Linked DNA regions of Homo sapiens: region 2 is linked to region 1. A link means that fine-mapping ties the variant in region 1 to the expression of a gene that starts in the linked region. Tissue or cell type: sigmoid colon. Region 1 holds a variant in brackets; the other region holds the start of a gene. All regions are shown on one strand. Distances are between the middles of the regions.

The links. PIP is the estimated chance that this variant, and not a neighbour inherited with it, causes the effect.
Region 2: PACRGL starts here. The variant in region 1 is fine-mapped to the expression of PACRGL in sigmoid colon (GTEx, PIP 0.96).

What each region holds. Positions count from the first base shown.
Region 1 is chr4:21,128,385-21,136,652 of GRCh38, reverse strand. All of the region lies in intron 1 of KCNIP4 (potassium voltage-gated channel interacting protein 4), which reads left to right. Among named protein-coding and RNA genes, the nearest start is that of MIR7978, 330 kb to the left of the region's middle. The variant G/A (reference allele first, on the strand shown) is at 4,638.
Region 2 is chr4:20,696,042-20,704,041 of GRCh38, reverse strand. PACRGL (parkin coregulated like) reads right to left here and starts at 3,584. Exons shown (of 9, transcript NM_001258345.3): 1 at 3,255-3,584. RefSeq lists an enhancer at 3,352-3,471.

The sequences.
Region 1 (8,268 bases):
GACATGTCTAAACCTGCATCCCAAGAGAATTATCATCAACTTAGGCTTTGAGAGGTACCTAATGGAGGAATGGAGGAAAGGACAGGAAACATCTGGAACATTCTTGTTGTTCTACCTCTAGCAATCAGTTTTCTCAAGATTCAGCACACTGTAACTTCTAGTTTACAAACCCAGTGAAAACCCAATGCCTATTTGCTGAACTAATAAACACAGAAGAGTCAGATCATATTTTAGTGTGGTAATATCCGAAAAGAGAAAGGCAAGATTGTGCGTGTGTACTTTTCTGCTTCCATTGTTCCTTCTAAAAATTATCCTTTGCTAATTCTCCAGAAAGATTACTCGCTTCCTCCAGTGGTAATTTGTTCTTCAGGCAAGTCATTAGGTGGGGAACAGTAGGTCAGAAAACAAAACCCTTTGTACCATAGGCCACTGAACAGTGGTAAATAAAATTAAAACATAGAGACATGTTAGGACCTTAGGGCACGGCAAGCATCCGGAAACATTTCAAGGCTCAGAAAATTTAAGACATTACTTTAAATTACACAGCCAGTGTCAGAGCTAAGAACAGCTCTAAAGACAACTTTCTCCAGATATCTACATAGTATATTTAAAACCCGTGGTAAAATATTTTTGTTTTGGAAGATGTAATAAATACTACTACTTAAGCTGTTTACATGAATAGTAACAGTTATGACTGACTGCCAATTAACTTGCAGGGAGCACTGTTAAGCATTTCATAGGGAATATTTCAATTAATATTTGTAATAACAATAGGAGGTGGGTATTATGATTTCCCGCATTTCAAAATAGGGACGTGGAGCTCAAGGATATTCAAGAGCTGACCCAAGGAAATAAAGCCAGTAAGTGGCAGAGCCTGGGTAAACCTGTGTGTTAGGCTTTCGAGCCCAAGATTTGCCCCTTTGTGCTGCTCATGAAGGACACTTTGTATGCAAATATTCTGAATAATCAAAAACTACTACCCATACACTCTTAAAAATAAGTTTTCAGTAGAATAGATTGTACGTATATGTAGATTTAATCTTTATTTTAGGATTAAGATAACATTTTAGGATTTTGCAGTATATCAAGTTAATAATCCTCAGTAGGACTTGCCAATTTTCCTGCCAAAAATACAAACATGATGCCTTACAGTAAGTTCTACACTAAAAAGTGGTGACTAGTTTAGTGGTTGAAGAAATATCTGATAGAGCCCATATTTTCTATGAGTAAAAGGTCTACAAAAATGGGGATGCTTTGCACATCTTTACTTTAGGGGTCCAATAGACCCTCACTAAAATCAGTGTTTCTGCATAAGAATGTATATTGCAGTCTATGAAGTCATTTAATAAGTCTTACCTAGCACCAGTCCATATCATTTTGAAAGCACTGCTTTCCCTCTTTGACCCATTCTACACCTCTGCTCATCTTAATTGAAGAGAATAATGCTTTTGACCAGCAGAGAGCAGCAATGATATACTTTATAAGAGGCAGTCTGGTGAACCTGACCATCTTTTCTAAAATGTCCATTTTGTGAGACCTCTGCAGACTGTCTTAAGTGATCCCAGTCTTTGAATGGTTCATTGTAAAAGATCTCGGAGTTTACCTGAATCCGTATGTGAGAATTTTGTAGCTAGATTGTCATGTTCTAGTTCTACTGATGCCATTTGTAAAGTTGACCTTTCCTTGCAGCCTTGTCTCCTGGTGCCATCAGCATGGGCCAGGTGCCTAGGTCAAGAAGTACCACTCCATCATGGTAGTTTCTGCCCTCATTTCCTAGCTGTGTTTATGGCCGAAGGCTATGCATCATGGAGCTCTGTGTTGACTCACAATATGGCTTTCTAAGGTAAAAGACAGTTAAAGATTCATGAGAACAGTGAATGGGATTATATTGATAGAATAGTGGGCAGAGGACACAAGCTTGGGGGATGTATATTTTCAGAAAACAAGAGTAGAGGAAATGGAACAGGAATCTTGGGGAAGAGCAGAGAAGGAAAAATCTATGAGAAGAAGCCAAGAGAAGAAAGAATTTCAAGAACAGGATGGCCAATTTTCAAATCCCCTTAGTGATGTAAAAGCAAACTTAGAAGAGTTATTGGCTTTGGAAATACAGTTGACACTTACAGAGGTTAGGGATGCTGACCCCCGTTTGCAGTTGAAAATTCATGTATAACGTTTGATTCCTCCAAAACGTAACTAGTAATGACATACTTTTGGCCAGAAGCTTTACCAATAACATAGTAAATCAACATGTATTTTGTATGCTATGTGTATTGTATGTGGTATTCTTACAACTAAGTAAACAAGAGAAAGGAAATGTTATTAAAAAGATTAAAAGAAGGAGAAAATATGTTTACTATTTTTTAAATGGAAGTGGATCATCATATAAGTCTTCATCTTCGTCATCTTCATATTGAGTAGACTAAGAAGGAGGAAGAGGAGGGGTTGGTCTTACTATCTCAGGGGTGGCAGAGGTGGAAAAAATCCACAAATAATTGGACCTGGGTCATTCAAACCCATGTTGTTCAAAGGTCACCTGTGGGTGGTCTGGGGAGACCTCAGAACAAATTTAGTCTCATTTTGAGAACTCAAGTTAGATTTTATGGGTTTGGGGGGTTAGATAAGAAAGAATTGTACAGAAGGAAACTAGTGTCCAAGCAACTGGGGAAAGAAGAAAGACATTCTTTCCTCCAGGGCAGAAGGGAAGTCGAAAGATGTGAATGATGACACAGAGAAACTTTGAGTTAGAAAAGGAAACTAATGGCCTCAGTCTACTCCATGAAGCAAAACGTCTGGGCTTTCTAGTGTGTATGTTTCCTTCTTTGAAAGTTGGTGGCTTGAGAGTAAAAATTAGAAAACAAAATACAACTTAATAAAAGAAATGAGAAAAAATCTCATGAGTTTCACTGAGATCACATAACAAGAAATTATGGCAGAATCAGAAGAAATTGTAGTAATATTTTTAAAATTGTCTTAACTGTCAGTATTTAGCAAATAGGAATGGCATTTACTAAGTGGCATTTACTAAATTTACTAAGTGAGCAGTATAGATTAGGATGATGGAAGATGAAGACGGTTGATTAATTCAGGGAGATGATAGTTGAATTGCCTAACCTTGGAGCCTGGGCAGAATAGAAGACAAGAAAAGGTAGCACAAGATGTGGACTAGGGAATAAGAGTTTAAGAAAACAAGAGTTGCCATAAAGACCCACAGGACTCCATGGAAATATGGGATGCAGAAGGACTGAAGGAATCATCCTCATTTTCCGGTTGCCTCAATAATCTGCCCTGACCCTTTTAAGTTCTTGGCACATAGCAGATAATGTACTCTCTCTCTCCATCATTTGTTGAATAAATTAATAATTACACATGTTAAACCCAGGAGGTTTTGAAAATAAAGCATTAACATTGTGTATGTGAGGAAGTAGGCAACTTTTGATTGTAAATAGGACAAACCCAGAGACATTGAAAACAGGAATGTCTTAATGACGTGATCCTTCTGTCCTACTTTCAGCATCACTCAAGAAGGGAAATCTTAGCATGTGTAATAATCATTAGCAATGAGGCAATTAATGAATTCCCTTCCCTAAAAGGGATTATTTTTGAATTTTTGACATTTGCAAAACATTTTTTTTTTTTTTCTGAGATGGAGCCTCACTCTGTTGCCCAGGCTGGGGTGCAGTGGCACCATCTCAGCTGACTGCAACTTCTGCCTCCTGGGTTCAAGCAATTCTCCTGCCTCAGCGTCCCAAGTAGCTGGGATTACAGGCACCTGGCTAATTTTTTTTTTTTTTTTTTTTTTGTCGTTTAGTAGAGACGACATTTCACCATGTTGCCCAGGCTGGTCTCGAACTCCTGAGCTCAGGTAATCTGCCTGCCTTAGCGTCCCAAAGTGCTAGGATTACAGGCGTGAGCCACCGTGCCTGGCCGCAAAAATTTCTTATTCTAACATGTTATAAATCTGCATCTGCTACACAAGGACAAACACACAGGGAGATGCCTACCCCGCACTTCAGTGGTCTGCTGAATCTAGTTCACATCTTTAAAACCATAGATGTCTAGAAAGCTAAATCTGGAAGATTCCTTGGAAGCAGGAAAACCATATAATTATTTTCAAAACCAAGACACCTCTGAGAGAGAAATGAGGCACTTTTAATAATAATCTAGATCAAAGTTAAAAACTGAGAATGTCATCAAATACAACCCAATGCTCTACAGATGAGAATAATCTGGATCCAGTATCCAAGAGGATAAATGGCTTCTCCTAATCCGGCATATTCATTCCACAAGTATGAGGATTTGGGTGAACATTGGAGGCCTTTAATGATTTATAGGGTGGTGTATTACAAATACAAGTGGCAAATCTGATTCTGTCAAAGGGACAAAACTTTTAATAGTAAGTGATAGAAGAACAAGTTAAACAGAAACAGGCTGTTCTTATATGGCTGGTGAAATTCCTGTTGTTGGTGCTTTTACGAGGCTTGATAAACATTTTGCATGGAAGATTCTGAAACAAGGGCAACAAAATTCTCTTTTTTTCACATTTTAAATTATTTATTTTGAAATATTTTAAAACTTAGTAAACATCTGTCAGGACAGCACAATAAATCTCCATCTTTCACACACAATCTCCATCACAC[G/A]CCCTCCTCATTACCACGGTACCTCTCTCTGACTGAAAAAATTAACACTGATTAACACTGCCATCCAATACAATGGCCCCATTTGAGAAGCCATACCTGGAAGGTAAATTCTTTCAGATATTAACCAAGTGTTTCTAAGGTTTAGATCAAAGTCACTTTATAAATACAAATCTATCATATTGTTTATACCAAAGTATTAACTTTTCATGGAAGTACAATGTATATACAGAAAAGTATACATATCCAAAGTGTACTGCTTGATGTATTTCTAATAAACTGGACACAACAGGGTAATCAATGACCAGATCAAAAGCACAACCAGCACCCCAGAATCCACCCTTGTGCTTCCTTCCAATCATTGCCCTCTTCCGGTTTTTATTTTTGTTTTTGTTTTTGTTTTTGTTTTGAGACTGAGTCTCCTTCTGTCGCCCAGGCTGGAGTGCAGTGGTGCAATCTCGGCTCACTGCAAGCTCCGCCTCCCGGGTTCACTCCGTTCTCCTGCCTCAATCTCCTGAGTAGCTGGGACTGCAGGTGCCCGCCAGCATGCCCAGCTAATTTTTTTGTATTTTTAGTAGAGACGGGGTTTCACCGTGTTAGCCAGGATGGTCTCGATTTCCTGACCTCGTGATCCACCCGACTGCCCTGACTTCTAAAGAAGAGATTGCTTTTTTGGTTTTAGTTCTATATGTAAATGTATAACATACAATAGTGTACTTTTTTGCGATTGGCTCCATATGTTCAAAGTTATCTATTATTCATCTACATCATTGCATGCGTTTATAGGATTCTTGTTGCTACATGGTATCCTATGTGTGTCTATGCCACAAATATTTTATCCGTTTTGCTGCTGATGGACATTGATGATTGCTTTTGCTTTTTGGTTATTAAAAATGTGCCACTATGAACAATCTACTACATACCTTCGGGGAGCATATATATACAGAAATACGTTCCCTGACCTAAAATGGTTCAATTTAGGATTTTTCAACTAGATTATGGCCTTTTGGGGGTTATAATCCCAGCATAAGTCAAGGAGCATCTGGACTTACAATGGCTTGACTTATGATTTTGTAAGTTTAAAAAGGGTTTAGAGGGATATTAAGTGAATTTTTAATTTACAGTGTTTTTGAATTATGATGGATATATTGGACTGTAACCCCATTATAACTCAATGATTATCTATACATTTCTTTGGATGTCTAAGTGGGAAATTGCTGAGTCATAATATATGCATATGTTTAACTTTATATACTATAGTATTTTAAATCTAATTGCAGTCAACATAGCATCAGAGTTATAGGGCAAATTTGTAAACAGCACAGCCAGGACAAGTACCCAGAGTTATTAACCTCTTTTTAAGAATTCCTTTCTCAACCACTCATTCATTTTTAACATATTTTTAAATAGCTCCTACATGGACAATTCTAGGCACTATGAATACAAACAAACAATTTCCATGGCTTGTCTTCATGTTCAAGGAATTTAGTTTAGTGAAATCTATTGTGGATTAGCATGAAGCACAGAGAAATTTTTAAATACAAAGGCAGACCAACATTATGCAATGATGACGTTTCTTGGAACTAGTGCCTTCTGAATTGCATTTTGAAGAATGGCTAGGAATTACACAGAGGATAAAGAGAAAGAAAGAAATTTTAACTTCTGTAATGGTTCAGAGGCAGAAAAATTGCGGTGATTCTCAAACACAGCTATGCATTAGAATCATTTAGGAAATCTTTAGAAATGATACCTCAAGCAACTGATTAAGACTCTCTGCAAGTGATGCCTAGGTATCTGCAACTTTTACAATTTTGCGAGGTGATTCTAATGTAGCATCAAGACTAACAAAACTGCAAGACATTCAGTATGGCTTAGGGATATGAGGGAGGATATAGAAGGATTAAAAAAAAAAGGAACAGTAAAAAATCAGGGAATGGAAGGCCAAGGTCATTCAAGGCTCCCTCCTAGGTCAAAACGTTTTGCCGGGAGAAAATGAAAATCACATTGCCACTTGCCACTTTATAGTTCAGCTAATACAGCATGAAGTATAGGTAGGAGGATGGTATGTAAGAAGTCTTTGAGTCAGTGATATACAAAACATCATTTACATTCACACTGTTTTTTTTTTTAACATTTCTGCTTCAACACTGGTTACATTATCTCAACTTATGACACATTTATCCCAAGAACATCAACTTTTATCAGACACATTTTAAATAGCAAACTTAGCGAATCCACTCCTAAATATCTTGCATTTAAAATGACCCAAGTTTTCTGTCTATCTATATTATAAAGTGAGAAAAATTCCCCAAGGTTGAGAACTTTCGTAAATTCACTCCCATTCCCAAAGTCAACAGCAGCCAGTTCATCATTTTAAAAGCAAGTACTTTTGATGCCAACAGCTACTATATGTAAGCCAGGTAAACTGAAATGAAAATATGCAAAGTTTGCACCTGAATTACACTCCTTGCCGTGGACACAATGATGCTTGGATGAAGAGCATGGGTTCTGTGGTCAGAGAGATCTGAAGTTTTGTTTTCTGAAATTCTGTCTTCACTAATTCCCAGTGGGGTGATCCTGGAGAAGGTCATCCAATCCTTCTGAACCAAAGTTTTCTCACCCGTGAAATGTGAGGTTAACCAATGTGTATTGAGTGTCTACTTTGTCCTGAGTGCTACATAGATGCTGTCTGTTTTCACACTGCTAATGAAGACATACCGGAGACTGGGAAATTTATAAAGGAAAGAGGTTTAATTGACTCACAGTTCTACGTGGCTAGGTAGGCCTCACAATCGTGGTGGAAGGCAAAGGAGGAGCAAAGTGACATCCTACATGATGGTAGGCAAGAGAGCTTGTGCAAGGGAACTCCCATTTATAAAACCATGAGATCTCATGAGACTTATTCACTACCACGAGAACAGTATGGGGGAACCGCCGCCGTGATTCAGTTATCTCCACCTGACCCTGCCCTTGACACCTGGGAATTATTACAATTCAAGGTGAGATATGGGTAGTGTCACAGCCAAACCATATCAACAACCTTATTTAATCTGTCCGTCAAGCCTATAAAGTGATTAGCATTAATAGCCCCATTTTAAATATCAGGAAAAGAAAGCTTAGAATGGTAAGCGCCTGGCTCCAAATACTAATCTTTTACTTATCACACAGAATTCAGTTCTTAACACAAGACTTATCTAAATGGAATATTATCTGTTTCTGGGGATGCAATAAGATATGTAAGAAATAGCACATAATCATAGTGCTCCTTACTGATAATAACGTAAGCCAAAGATGGGCTATGCTAGTTTAAACATGTTGCAAATGAGAATCTTTTGCTCCCAAGAAAGTACAAATAGCTCTGTATTCTTTCTCTAAATGAGGTATGCATTGATCACCTACTATGTGGCAAGCCCTTTTCTAGGCACCGGGTTTATGAGAAGGAGTTGGTAAATAGAATAGAGACATCTGCACTTTTGGTGCCTTATAATCTCTTATGGAGGCAAACCATTTCAGGGAATAGCATCCTTACCCTCAATCCTTATAGTCTCCTATATTGGCTTCATATAGGGAAAAATCTGTGACAAATGCTCTTTTTCCTGAATGGGGTTTATTTATTTGAACACTTATGATTCCT
Region 2 (8,000 bases), 430 kb after region 1:
CAGTGACATAATGAACTCTCCTACCCAATGTATCACAAGCTCCTTAAACTGAATGTAACTAAAACTGAGGTTGTCACACTGAAGTTATTATGAACCCCTTGTTAACCCAGGGTACCACCAGTTTTCTGGTCCTCAGACTGAAAAACTTAGAATCACCATTGTCTCCTTTTCCTTCATTTCCTACACTCAATGCTACACGTGATGAGAAAGAAAGAGCTTTGGGCTCAAATATGGGTCTGCATCTCAGTTCTACCAATTATGAAATTTATGAATTTAGGCAGATTATTTAACCTCCCTAAACCTCGACTTCCTGACCTGTTTAAAGAGGGAAATAAAAGCCTGTCAAGGTTTTCTGGAGGTGCAAATGAAATTATCTCTCAAGTTACTCACCCAGGGAATACTGGTTCACTTTTCCCTTACACAGTTGCTTTTTTTCTGCTAATGGAGGACTCTAGTTCATACCCCAAGGTTTCCAGCTAATCCAATCAATTTCTACAATTGTATCTCTAGCAAGAAATACACACACACAAACACACACACACACACACACACACACACACACACTCATATACCCAAGTGCCTACTGGTATTTTTAGGCCAAGCTTCATTCCCAACTTCCATGAAGCCTTTCCTCATCTTGGTTTCTCAAATGTGTATTTCTATGGCATTGATTTCTATCCTGTGTCCTTATTTCTACTTGATTACTCTGTTCCCTCACTTCCACGACAATCTAGTTATTCTATTAGCACACGTCTCATTTTAATGCCTTTAATAATGACTGCCTCTCAAGTATAGTGTAAGATCTTCCCTTAGGACAACACAGGTAAAGTCCTCTTCCACCTCCAAATGACACTTTTTCAAATATTTGATGGCATTAACTCTTAACTCCTTCATTTTTTCTTCTTCAGGATAAACACTGATACTTTTTAAAATGATTCCTCACATGAAATGCTTTTAATCCACTTAACAAGTTAGAAATCCTCAAAAGGAGGACAAAGCTCCATGTTATAAAATTTAGCCAGATATCTCAAACATGATGTACCAGCTTAAAGTCTGATACCATGTAAAGATAACCTAAATGTAAGCTTGCTTCTGCACACTGAATAATTTCAATTTCCTTGATTTAGTACATTGATCTCATTTATCTCATCCCACTACCAGCAGATGACTTACTTCCCAGTATCACACTTCACCTCCATTCCCAGGGCCATTTTCTAATACTACGGTAATTAAAATCTCATTAAAGTTGTCAGATAATAGTCTAAAATAAGCTGAGAGAAGCTTTAAATATGTTAACCTACTATTGTACTTCTGTGATCATTCAACAAGTATTTAATATTGTGCCTGACTTCTGTTTTGAGAAGCTCCTGGAGGGGGAACAACACAAGTTTCTATTGAAAAAAAAAATGCATCAGTTTCCTCAACTCTATAATTGGGCATAATTACAGGAACTACTTTAAGTGTTGATGAAGACTAGTAAGAATATATGTAAAACAACATTTCCATAATGGGAGGCATGCAGTAAGGGCCACATGAGTCTTAGCTATTATTATAATTTTCTTTACAATGGTACAAAGTGTTCTTCAGTATTACTATTACTAATAGTGAAACCACATGTTTTGTCATTTTTAAAAAATCTGGCTTAACATCTTGGGCTACATCAATTTGAAGACCAGCTGAGGTCCAATTTCTCTTGATCATCAATTGTTAACAGCTGCAACAGATAAAAGCGATGCACAGCAAAGACGCGTACCCACAAACATAACAAGGGCACAGGCAGCCATATCAAATTATGATGCACATTTTTCAATACTACCTACCAATTCAGTGGAAGTTTTGGATGGAATTTTATGGCTAAATTTCTATCTTCCTTCACGTCAAAAAGTTGTTCCTGTAACAAACTAATGGGGAGGTGTTGCATTATATTTTGAATGAGTTCAAAAAGTCACCAAAACTCATTTGAAAAAGTTTTAAACATGGTAGAAAATCGAGCTTCTACAGTTTATGAGTATACAGGACAACTTTTATGTACAATATATAATTTTCAGCATTAAACATACAGTAATGCAAACACGTCTACATCCCCTTTCAAAATCCTGTATTAGAGAATTTCCTTCCAAAACAATTGCTTTTTCACTTAAAATTTTTATCCTTTACCTTAACGACAAATTACAGTTGGCTCTCCGTATATGCGGGTTCCACATCTATAGATTTGACCCAACCACGGATACGGAGAGCAGACTGGAGGACTTTGGCATGGGTGGATTTGGGTATCTGAAAGAGACTGGGGGGAGGGAGGGAGTCCTGGAGCCAATTCTCCACGGACACCAAGGGACGACGGGAAATGTAGTCAATTTTTTAAAATAATATCCACCTGGAAGCATGCCACTGACAAGCCTGGAGCATGAGTTGTTTGTGAAAGCAAGCTTTAAAAATCTTATCCTTGGTAACCCTTTCAAGTGGTTTTTCATTAAATAACATGTAGAGGATGGTGTAAAGGGGCAGTGATGGGGAGAAGCGAACCTGTAAGAACTATTTTGTGTTACAAATATTATCAAGGTCACCGCTCATTCTTTTACAAAACAAGATAAACATTCTAATTATAGATATTAGAATCCATAAATCCACTTAACTTCGAACACCTAAACTATGTCACAATATCAGAAAGCAAACAAACCACCCTATGAAGCCCACACATTCCCCTTAAAGCTTCCTTGGTTGCTACAGGTCATCTATCTACAAGGGACTGCCGGTATCTGTGTCAATGGTAGGAAAGTGTACTTTCTATCATTGTTTGGGCAGCTGATATAGCCTATTTCTTTCCCTGTATGTACTTTCTCCCGTACTCAGCTTTAAGACCACTGAACTAAAACAATTCTCAGTCAGCAGAGCCCTGCTTTCTAATCCAGGTCTAGAAAGTTCCAAACGTGTAAGTAAGAGCCCCACTAAAGAAACCATGTTCCATTTGTAAAGCTCTGTCAAATTCTAAAAGACCCAGAGCCCAATAGTCACTTATCCCAGTCCCTTTTTTACCAGAAAGTAAATTCAAAGGGCCAGTATTAGGGTCGCACAATCTGCTTAGGGGTCTTAGAATCTATTTTCCACCTTCCCAGCCACCCCTCCTACACTCACTTCTAGATACTTAAAGACCAGTCCAGAGCCAGGATGCTATCAAAGTCAGCAAAAGAGGAAGACACAGAAAAAAAATAAAGAAAAAACAGAGATTTTTTAAAGGGGCCGAGGGAGGAGTTTACCAGTTTCAATTAAGGTTAACGAAGGCTACTCTCGACTGACCCTCTACCCCAGGAAAGGAGGGGTACACTCCAAGCGCTCACGATCTCAAGGGTCCTTAGCAACGGGGTCCAGCGGCCCTAGCAACAGATCAGGAAGCAAGCCGGCTTGGCAGAGAGCGCAGACAGGACACCTGTACCCGCGGTTCACGGCTCCGGGGACCCGTTCCTACCGCGCCTCTCTCCCGCCGCGATCCGCACACCAGCTGCCCCCCACCGGGGGGGGCTTATGACCGGCACTCGGTCGGCCAACAACCGCGGCTACCGCCACCGAGCGCCTGCGTTTGGGGAAATGAGGCTCCGCGCGGCCCGCCCCTGAACCTGGTCGCGCCGCGCAATGACGTCAGACGCACGCTGCGTCGTCTAAACCAATGGTAAGAGGTCGCGGAGGCGCCCCAGAAGAGGGTTGCCCAGGCAACCAGGCGCCAGGAGTTCAGGGGGCAGCTCACGCACTGCAGGCGCTGTCTCTGGCGACAAAGGGGCACGTGGTGGAGGATGTTTTTCGAATAAGAGGTCCGGAGAGCAGAGGGACGATGACGGGTTCCCAGTCGCCTGCGCCCTAGCCTCTCTTCAGTCCATGTGCTTAACTCCTAAACGCTTTTCTCGCACACTTAATACTCATTGTTCCTCAGCTATCTTACCCTCAATACTCGGAGAACTGAAGACTGTGAACTCCTCCCCCCGAGTCTTCAGGGGTGAGAGCCGAAGCCATCTGCATGCCCAGCTGTGGGATTTTCTTGTAGTTTCCTGTTCTATCTGGCTAAATCATAAGCCTAGCTGTGGAAATTCGTTTCCTGTCGTATTTTATGAATCTCATATGCTATTGCATTCTTCACAGTATATCCGCATTTAAATAGTAAAAAGCACGATTTTGTGCTCTACATTATTTTTAATAGTAAAAATATTTAATAGTGAAAAGCACGATTTTATGCTCCACATCATAACAAAACTGATGCTGCAGGAAAATGCATATTCCCTTGTATTGCATTCCACCAGCAACAATTTGGGTTGTCATAGTTAAGTCCAAGCCCTTTGGACCTGTCCACTGCACTCCTCTTTAGCATCCTCTACTGTTGCCAACCCAAAGCCCTAACTTTTTGCTTAGGTAACACTAAATTGGCATTGTCTGAGCACTCGAGGCTGTGTAATCCTTCTGTGCTCCTGTAGCTCCATCCTTGCTACTTGACCAGCACCCCAGAAGCATCTTCATTAGATTGTGAGTTTCCTCAGGATAAGGATTTTAACTTTGCCCTTTTTATTTCTCCAGCTTCAAGCATAATGCAGTGGGTATTCAACTAATGTCTTCTGAATGAATAAAATGAATTAATAAATTCTGTCTATGTCTAATTTCTCTAATGTTCTGTGAACCTTGCATACAAATCTAAGTTTTAAAATTTATTATAATGTATTTACCTATCTTTCTCACTAGACTGAAATTGTCTTTATTGCTTTTCTATCCCCAATGCCTAGCGCAATGCATGCTTAACTAACGTTTTTAAAAGGAAAAAGAAATTTTTAAAAAAAAAAATCTTATATCCTGTATCTTCAGCTACTTTTACTTTATAATCTCTCATCTCCAGCTTCCTCAAGACTTATTATATTTTCCTTACTCCTAGCATCTCCAGTGTCAGACTCAGTAGAGCTCCTAGTTCGTGACCTTTTAACCCCTCCTCCCTGGACTATAAGAATGATTTGTATTCAGTATCGCAGAGGAATGACAAGCATATGTGTTCTGGAGTTAAGCTATCTAAAACTCACCACCCCTTATCAGCTATGAGTCCTTGTGGATGACGACTCCTACAAGCCTCAATTTCCTCTTCATTATTGGGTTATTGCGAGACTTAAATTTAAGAGGACAATTGAATACCTGACACATAGGAAGTACTCAATAAGTATTAGCTAGTGCAATTATTCAGGTGAAAGCAAATTAAGACTAACGTGGAGGACATCGTAAGTGGCAAAAGTCTCATGCTATGTGTTGGTGTATGAACCATGGACGATGACACGGATTTTTCAGATCTTTATAATAACAATTAGTATAAGCTTCTCCTAATCACAGTTAAAACAGCCTCTTCTAAACTTTCTGTCATCATTTTAGAAAATGAACAGAAAACATGCTCCTTGGCATTGCAACTCTATCAGGATATTATGCAATAAGTGGTGGGTGCTTTCTTGAATACACTGGTTTGACAAGCCTGTGAGGCATCCAGGGGGAGCTAACTAGCATGCTGTTGGATCTGCTCATCTAGAGGGCAGGAAAGAGAACTGGGCATAGCTATGGATTTTTGAGCCATCAGCATATGTAGACGCTGAGTTGGGCGATAGGAGTAATACCTTCTAGGAAAGCTCACAATATGTGAGAAACAGAGCACTGATTGTGGACTTTTGTCTTCTATTCAGGTTTTAAGGTTTAATTTTCTATTTAAGAGAGAATGGGATGAGGGAAAAAAGGTGACCTATTTGCCTAGCAATATAGTAAATGATTCTGAAAAGACAGAATATGCCATATATTTTCTGTTTGCTCTCATATAGGTACACTCTTCCCTTTGTCCTGTTATTTGCTCTGGGATGCTGATCAGCATAAACTATATCACCCAGGCTCCAGTGCCCTCTGGTTTCTGATTGGGTTTGGCTACTGAAGAACACTAATAGGAGATTAGAGAATTAGAGGAGAGTGAAGTCAGAGTATTCATTCTCCTGCTCCTATCCTTAGGGGGTTCCCTAAAGCTGGTCATACCCATAAGTGAAGATCACATCTTTCTGCTATAGTCTGATTGTTTCTGTTCCTCCAAAATTCATAGATTGAAATTTTAACTCCCAAGGTGATGGTATTTGGAGGTGGGGCTTTTGGGTGGCGATGAAGTCATAGGGTTGGAACACTCGTGAATGGAATTAGTGCCCTAATAATAGAGGCCTGAGAGAGAACACTCACTCCTTCCACTATGTGAGGACACAGTGAAACAATTTCATCTGTGAACCAGAAAGTAGTCCCTTACCAGACACTGAATCTGTTGATACTTCGATGTGGACTTTCCAGCCTCCAGAACCATGAGAAATCAATTTCTGTTGTTTATAAGCTACTCAATGTACGGTATTTCACTATAGCAGCCCAAATAGACTAAAAAACTTTCTAAATGGCAAACTTCAGTTCTAGGCACAAAATCTCAGAGGCTACTATCTCTAGGTTACTGCACTGTCTGTGTGGTACCCTGTACCTTTATAAATAAAATTTCTTCAAATTGCCCTATTTTTGTTACTCCATATTATATAACCTTATGAGTTAGGTAATAAATCTAACCAAAGTAAACCACTCAGGACGATTTTTTTTCTCATTGTGCTGGTTCTCATTGACTTGTGAAAAAATTATTCATTATTTATTTACTTACATTTAAGTCACCAAGCATTTTTAAGAAAATATTGTCTTAATTCTTGTAAAGAAAATCTCTGCCTTTTTGTACAAATTACAGACAAAGCAATCATTCCCAATGATTATTCCCAAGTCCTATCATTGAGAAATGTGATACAAGAAATTTGTACAATTTGACAAAGCACACTTTGTCAGGAAATGTTAGACATCATCATTATAAAGTCATTGAGTGTCCGCTTGCACATGGAACAAATTAAGCAGTGATAATGGCTCCTCAGGTGAAAGCAAATGAAATCAACATGAGTGAGCATATAAGGTAGCATTGTCCAATAGAAAAGTGATGCAAGTCACATAATACAATTTTAAATTGCCTAGTAGGCATATTTTTTAAAGGTGGAAAGAATCATGTGAAAGTAATTTTAGTGGTATATTTTTATTAACCCAATATGTCCAAAATATTATCACTTCAACTTGGAATAAATATAAACACTATTAATGTGATATTTTACATTCTTGTTATTTGTGCTAAGTCTTCAAAAGTTGGTGTGTATTTTACATGTATAGCACATTTAAATCCATACTAGCCACATTTCAAATATTCAATAACCACAGATGGCTAGTGGCTACTGTATTGGACAGTACAGAAAGCTATGGCCACTGACAGTTGGGCAAACATAGAATGAAGTCAATAAATGTGTCAAATAGCTAGAGAGTACATACTGTTTGTACAACAAACTATTAGATGTTGGAGAATCAATCCAAATGTAAAGGTCATGAATTGGGTATGAACCTCAGACTACAGAGTCAGTGCAATTAACAACTTCCTTTATGGTTCATAGTAGTATTCAATTTCTTTTACAAATGTCTTTACCCTTTCTCTCCTTGGAATTGTGTTGAGAGGATGAGGCTTGGAGGAGTGTGGCATCTGGTCCTCTGTTGTCATCTGCTAGGATATACGTACTTTGGTCTTTCTGGTCCTCAGTCATTTATCCTTCATTCTTGTAGATTGCTCATGTGTTTTTCATTCCAGGTTCTCATTGAGAGCTAATTCCAATCTCCTCTTAACTATCCAGGAGGTAATCTATTCTTCCAATCTGAAGCCTAAGAAATTCAGCTGTTGGTTTCTACCTTGTAGAAACCATGGGAACCTATGAGGTTGCCGTAGAGTCTTTTGTCTAGACACACTACAAGGCCATTTCTTCTCATCCTATACCCTAGGTTCAGGGGTATCTAGGGGCTTATTAGCTCTGGGGTATTGCCCTGGGGGGAGGATGGAGGATGGGAAGGACAGAGCATACTGTCTCTTTGCTCTCAGATCTAGACCTTGACTCTGACTGATGACA